2 linked regions of the Homo sapiens genome follow. The protein of the gene in region 2 interacts with the protein of the main gene of each other region in a pairwise test. Each region holds a gene or a part of one and is shown on either strand. Other genes may lie near its edges.

Region 1 (4,078 bases), on a different chromosome or scaffold from region 2:
CTACAAAATAAATGGTTTGTATTCTTCAAAAGTGTTCATGCCATGAAAACTGAAGAAATACTAAGCAACTATTTTCCAGACTAAAGCAGATTGGAAACATGACAACTGAATGCAAGGTGTGATCTTGGATTTTCTTTTGCTATGAAGGACATTATTGGGCCATTTACCAAAAAAAAAAAAAAAATGCATAAAGTTGATAGATCATAGTATTGGTAATTTTCTGATTTTCACAATAATACTGTGTCTCTGTGAAATAATGTTCCTGTGTTGGGGGAAAATACACACTGACGTATTAATATTTAGGAGTAAAAAAAATGCTGATGCCCTATTTACAATCGGATTAAAATTCAAACCACTTCAAGATTTGGTCTCCTGTGCACTTGTTCTCTTCCTGTCATTCTTCCCCACTTAATCATTATGAGAGGTCACTCTGACGTGACAGTTCCCAGCGCAAGCCAAGTTTTTTACTGTTCCCTAAACCACTGTCTTTTGTTACCCTATTTTAGTTTAAATATCACTCACTCAGAAAGTCATTCCCTGAGCACACTGCCTAAAGTTAGTACCTCCATTGTCTATTAAAGCACTCTTTCTTCTTACTATTTTGCTTATTTATTGTTACCTATTTATTCCCACTGAATGGAAATTACATTAGAAATGGGGGTATGCTCTGTTCACGGCTTTTTCTTGAACACGTGGAATATACTAGCGCTCAAAAAATATCTTTAATCAGACTTATCTTTAACTCTTACCAAAAAGCGTTATACTCATAGAAAGAGCACTAATACTTCCGTAAAATTCTAAGCTGAATTCAAAGACGATACCCTTTAAGTGAAACTTCACGAGAGCCTGAGCACAAGGAGGTGAAGTGGATGCCATCAAGATTCTGGGTCAGGGTCGGGACGCGGAGGAAGACAGGTTACTTCGCGCCTACTGCTTTTTCTACTTTTTGTGAGAGTATACCAGCATCTCTCCCTTTGGCTTAAAGAAAGAATAAAGTGAGGAGAGAATAATAATATAAAAGATAAATAATAATTCCAAGGAAAGGAATAGAGCAGCTTCTCAGATACCACGACGCCAAGCGGCTCAAAGTACGCGAACCGAAGGAGGAGCCTTTGCTTTCCCCAACCCCGCCTCCATTGCTTCTGCACATGCGCGCCGCCAGCCTCTCGCGGCCCGCTTTTTTCCCACAATACTCCTCGTCCTGGGGGCCGGAGCCGCGGAACGAGCCACAGAGAAAAAGGTTATTGGTTGGCAGTTCAGCCAATGAGCGGGCCTGTTACTAGTTTGCGGCATCCTGTGGTATAGGGGAAGCGCTCCGGGCCTGGAATCCCTACGCGTCCCTTTGGGTTTAGCACGATGAGCTCAATCGGCACTGGGGTGAGTTCGCTGTCTGTCGGTGTAATAGTTTAACCTAAGGATTGGGGTTGAAGGGAACTCGGACAGACCACATGGGGTTCGCGGACCCGGGGTGCTCTGAGACCGCCTTCGGCTGGGTGGGCCATTTGCAGCTGTTTGGAGACCGGTCGTCTTTATCCCCTATATGCTAGGCCTGCGTCTCAGGTGACCGTGACTCCTGAAGCTTTTCAGCGCAGGTGTAGCCGGCTTGGCGTCGCCGCAGTGAGGTTTGGAGCCGCTTTGGATTGCTGAGTCACTTTCTTCAGCCACTTAGGGAAACCGAAAGTGGAAACTCGTGGGGCTTGAAATAGTGTGTTCTCTTGAGAACCACCGAGGCAGTGAGATTTGGGATTCCGGGGTCTGGAGATCGTGCTTTTTGTGGACTGCGTTTGCAGTTCCTAGGGTGCTGCTGATTCACAGGCCTTCTCTGTCTTTAAGTGTGCAGATCATTGACCGCTCAGTTTAAGAGTCACTGGAAATCCTGTCGGAACAGAACTAATAAAAATGGTCTGAAAAACAATCTGATGAATCCTTCAGTTTTTCCTTTCTCGTTTTTCCTATACAAATTACCTAACAGCGCTTGTAGGCATTTATTCCGTAAACGTTTAAATGGTTACTTAGGAACTTAACAGCTTCAGACTTTTCATAGACTGTTGAGGATTTTGCAGTGGGACTTGTTAACTTGTTTGGCTTTCCTTTGTTAAACGTATTGCATATGTGCAGTCAGTTTACTCCTTTTATGTACTTCTCTATATAGAAAATACAGTTTCTAAAAGATTTATTGGTTATTTGCACTAGAGTTATTGAATAATGAGTTTCTCAGTTCCTCAATTTCTACTTCTTAACAAGATTCTCATGCTCAGCCTTAAGTTCAAGTACCGGTGTTCTAAATTTGATAATAGGCAACTTATGTCTGGAATGGTTTAATCCATTCAGTTATGAATGCTAAAGTTCTGCCATACTTTTCTTGGATAAGTAAATGCTCAATATTAAATCTTGTAGCAAACTGACTTTGCAATTATATTAATATTACCTTGAATTAATAGTATTTCATTCTACAAACCTTTTAAAGAATACTTGATAATGTAACCATGTGGGATATTTTAGTAACAATGGTAGGGTTAATGATCTGGGTTTAACAGATCAGGAAACAGACTCAGAAAGTACCACTGCTGAAGGCTTTTCTTCTGTCTTCATTTCTCCCAAGAACTCCAGATACGAATATTTGTTTGTCTGCTTGACATGTCTGTTCACTTGATCGTTTAATAGTCATTTCGTACTGCATGTGAAAGTAGAGCTCTGGGTTTTCTCCTCACCTTGCCATTTTGCATCTACTACAGTCTTCAGCTCAGTGAATGGTCATATGAAAAAATCTGTTATTCATCTTTAATTCCTTTTTTTACTTTACTCCCAGAACCAACGCTTTAGCAAGTTTATTTTTTTATTTTTATTTTGTTTGAGACGGAGTCTTGCTCTGTTGCCAGGCTGGAGTGCAGTGGCACGATCTTGGCTCACTGCAACCTGTGCCTCCCAGGTTCAAGCAATTCTCCTGTCTCAGCCTCCCGAAGAGCTGGGACTACAGGTGCGCACCACCACGCCCAGCTAATTTTTGTATTTTTCGTAGAGATGAGGTTTCACCATGTTGGCCAGGATGGTCTCCATCTCTTGACCTTGTGATCAGCCCGCCTCACCCTCCCAAAGTGCTGGGATTACAGGCATGAGCCATCACGCCTGGCCTAGCAAGTTTATTTTTATTATTTTTATATTTTACTCTACTCTCAAAAAATATTCCCTTCTACCTCTTCTCTCGTCTAAGCTACTACCGCTATCTTTGGAACACCTTATCTTTGCTTCTGTTGTTCTCTCTACAGCTTATTTTCCGCATAAAGCCAGAATGATGTTTTTAAAAATATAGATGATACCACTCCCCCTGCTTAAATTTCTCATTGCATTTAGAATAAAATACAGAGTCCTTTTTCCATCCTGGAAGACACAACATAATCTGGCCCTCAGCTACCTCACTAACACAGTTTACTCTTCTTTCTGCTGCTTACAGTGCTTGGGACACAGTGACCTTATTTCTGTTTCTTGACTGTGCTAGCCTTATTTCTACCCTAAGATCTTTGTGCCAAATGTCAAGAAGACTTTTCCTTCATATCTTAAATGGCTAGCTCCTTGTCATTTAGGTTTGACTCAGCCTAAATATAACTGCCCAGAAGGCCTTCCCTGATGATGTAGTCTGTAGTAGTTCATTGCTTTACTCTTTTATTTTCATCTTAGTGCCTTTTCTGATTTACTGCTGTACCTCTAGCACCTAGATTCATGTCTGATGTGAAACTGAAGGACTTAATGAATGAGTATACCTTTGTATTCCGTATAGTAACATAATAGATACTCATTAACTGCTTGGTGAATGCCGAATGATTTGTTTGAAGTCTTTTAGTTTGTTAATGGCAGAGTTATCGTTACAAATTTAAATGTTCGAACTCCAGTGCTGGTTCTACTGCCCCATATTAATCTTTTTCAAAAATGAGTTTTGTAGTCTGGGTGAAAAGTGTTCTGACTTCACCTGGGACCTGTATCCATTACTCTTCAATAGCTGAAATCGAAGGTATATAGCTTTATCTTAGCTACTGTTGCTGCTCTGACAAGTTTCCCTTTCCTCTCTTGAAAGCAAGGTCTT
Region 2 (2,579 bases):
TTCCTGCTGGGTTCAAATGCCAGGCTTGGCGGTTGGTGGCACAGACTGGGAAACGTGACTCCTACACCTGGGGGTCTGCCCTCAGAGGGAAGGCCCTGGTCCCCCGAACTGGCAGAACTCCTTTCTAAAAAGGGGCTGGTAGTGGGAGAAGGTGGGCCCGCTGTGAATGTAGGTGAGGTGATCCCGGGAACCTGGGTCTGAAATCAGACCTGTGTTGCCATTGGGAGCACGGAGAGAGGGGAAGCGCCCTGCTTAGGCCCAGGCCGGGCGTCCTGGTGGTGGGACCGCAGCCGCACTCACCTCCAGGCCAACGGACAAGGTTCCTGCAAGCCAGCAGGGCCACTCTGTGCTTGGCCTACTGCAGCTCCCCTGCAGCTCCTTTCCTCTCCCTCCCCGGAGCGCTCTCCTCTCTCCTCTCCCCTCTCTTCTCTCTCCTCTCTCGTCTCCTGGGGCATCCCGGGTGGAGGGATGTAGGGGTCGCTCCTCGGTGCCAGGCCGGGAAGCAGCTCAGGCCTCCCAAGAGCTTGGCGCTCAGTCTGGGAAAAGGGGTTCCTCTGGCCTCAGGGACGTTCTCCGCCCCCACCCCACCCCCTGGGAGCCTGAACCATCTGGAAGGGATCTTAGTCGGGGGTTGGGAGGAGAGCCCGTGGATAGGAGGAGGGGGCGATTCTAGGCCGAATCCAGCCCCTGAGGTGTCACTTTTCTTTCCTGCGGCCCGTCACCGCTGATAGATGGGGCTGAGGGCAGAGGAAGGAAAAAGAAAACCTCCGAGGTCAGTGCGGGGCGAGGTGAGCCCCTCCCAGGGCCCTCTGGCCCAGGAGGATGAAGCGCGCCGGCTTCGCTCTTGCACGCCGGCTTGCCATCCGGGTAAGCGCGGGAAAGGCGGCCACAGGGCGCGGCGGCAGCGCAGCGCGTGGGATCTCACGACCCATCCGTTAACCCACCGTTCCCAGGAGCTCCGAGGCGCAGCGGCGACAGAGGTTCGCCCCGGCCTGCTAGCATTGGCATTGCGGTTGACTGAGCTTCGCCTAACAGGCTTGGGGAGGGTGGGCTGGGCTGGGCTGGGCTGGGCTGGGTGCTGCCCGGCTGTCCGCCTTTCGTTTTCCTGGGACCGAGGAGTCTTCCGCTCCGTATCTGCCTAGAGTCTGAATCCGACTTTCTTTCCTTTGGGCACGCGCTCGCCAGTGGAGCACTTCTTGTTCTGGCCCCGGGCTGATCTGCACGCGGACTTGAGCAGGTGCCAAGGTGCCACGCAGTCCCCTCACGGCTTTCGGGGGGTCTTGGAGTCGGGTGGGGAGGGAGACTTAGGTGTGGTAACCTGCGCAGGTGCCAAAGGGCAGAAGGAGCAGCCTTGGATTATAGTCACGGTCTCTCCCTCTCTTCCCTGCCATTTTTAGGGCTTTCTCTACGTGCTGTTGTCTCACTGGGTTTTTGTCGGAGCCCCACGCCCTCCGGCCTCTGATTCCTGGAAGAAAGGGTTGGTCCCCTCAGCACCCCCAGCATCCCGGAAAATGGGGAGCAAGGCTCTGCCAGCGCCCATCCCGCTCCACCCGTCGCTGCAGCTCACCAATTACTCCTTCCTGCAGGCCGTGAACACCTTCCCGGCCACGGTGGACCACCTGCAGGGCCTGTACGGTCTCAGCGCGGTACAGACCATGCACATGAACCACTGGACGCTGGGGTATCCCAATGTGCACGAGATCACCCGCTCCACCATCACGGAGATGGCGGCGGCGCAGGGCCTCGTGGACGCGCGCTTCCCCTTCCCGGCCCTGCCTTTTACCACCCACCTATTCCACCCCAAGCAGGGGGCCATTGCCCACGTCCTCCCAGCCCTGCACAAGGACCGGCCCCGTTTTGACTTTGCCAATTTGGCGGTGGCTGCCACGCAAGAGGATCCGCCTAAGATGGGAGACCTGAGCAAGCTGAGCCCAGGACTGGGTAGCCCCATCTCGGGCCTCAGTAAATTGACTCCGGACAGAAAGCCCTCTCGAGGAAGGTTGCCCTCCAAAACGAAAAAAGAGTTTATCTGCAAGTTTTGCGGCAGACACTTTACCAAATCCTACAATTTGCTCATCCATGAGAGGACCCACACGGACGAGAGGCCGTACACGTGTGACATCTGCCACAAGGCCTTCCGGAGGCAAGATCACCTGCGGGATCACAGGTGAGGCGGGCAAGGAGGATGGCTGGGAGAGGGAAAGCGAATTTGTCCTGGACACACCGAGTCCTGATAGACATTCCCAGTGTCATTATAATCCCCTGTGATCTAAAATACACCCTCAGTCACGCTCCTCAGCCCGGTTCAGCTAATTCCCAACATCTACCCTTTCTTTCCCCCAGCGGCTCTTGCTACGTTCTTGTTTGGAATGAGGGAGGGCCTTTCCTCAGTCTTGGACAGGAACAATCTGTTGGCCTTAGTCCTGGGATGGTTATCCTGTCTCCTCCCGGTGCTGTGGGGAGTGGTGCAGGCAGAACCCAGGTACCCTGGGGTGCCGGTCCTGGCTGCAGTCGGGCTACTTCTGTTGGGTTTCGTCCCTCCCCCCACCCCCCACCCTCCACCCAGGTGCGCCCCAGAG

The links. The genes of interacting proteins can lie anywhere in the genome.
Region 1: the proteins of OSR2 (region 2) and PSMA3 interact in binary tests that used the Homo sapiens proteins (3 or more experiments, as listed by UniProt).

The regions. Positions count from the first base shown.
Region 1 is NC_000014.9:58,243,565-58,247,642, forward strand, and holds the start of PSMA3 (proteasome subunit alpha type-3), read left to right. Parts: upstream 1-1,278; 5' UTR 1,279-1,356; coding exon 1,357-1,377; intron 1,378-4,078. UniProt on the Homo sapiens protein: Component of the 20S core proteasome complex involved in the proteolytic degradation of most intracellular proteins. This complex plays numerous essential roles within the cell by associating with different regulatory particles.
Region 2 is NC_000008.11:98,947,442-98,950,020, forward strand, and holds part of OSR2 (protein odd-skipped-related 2), read left to right. Parts: intron 1-731; coding exon of another isoform or gene 732-980; intron 981-1,075; exon of another isoform or gene 1,076-1,245; intron 1,246-1,397; coding exon of another isoform or gene 1,398-1,511; coding exon 1,512-2,167; intron 2,168-2,579. UniProt on the Homo sapiens protein: May be involved in the development of the mandibular molar tooth germ at the bud stage.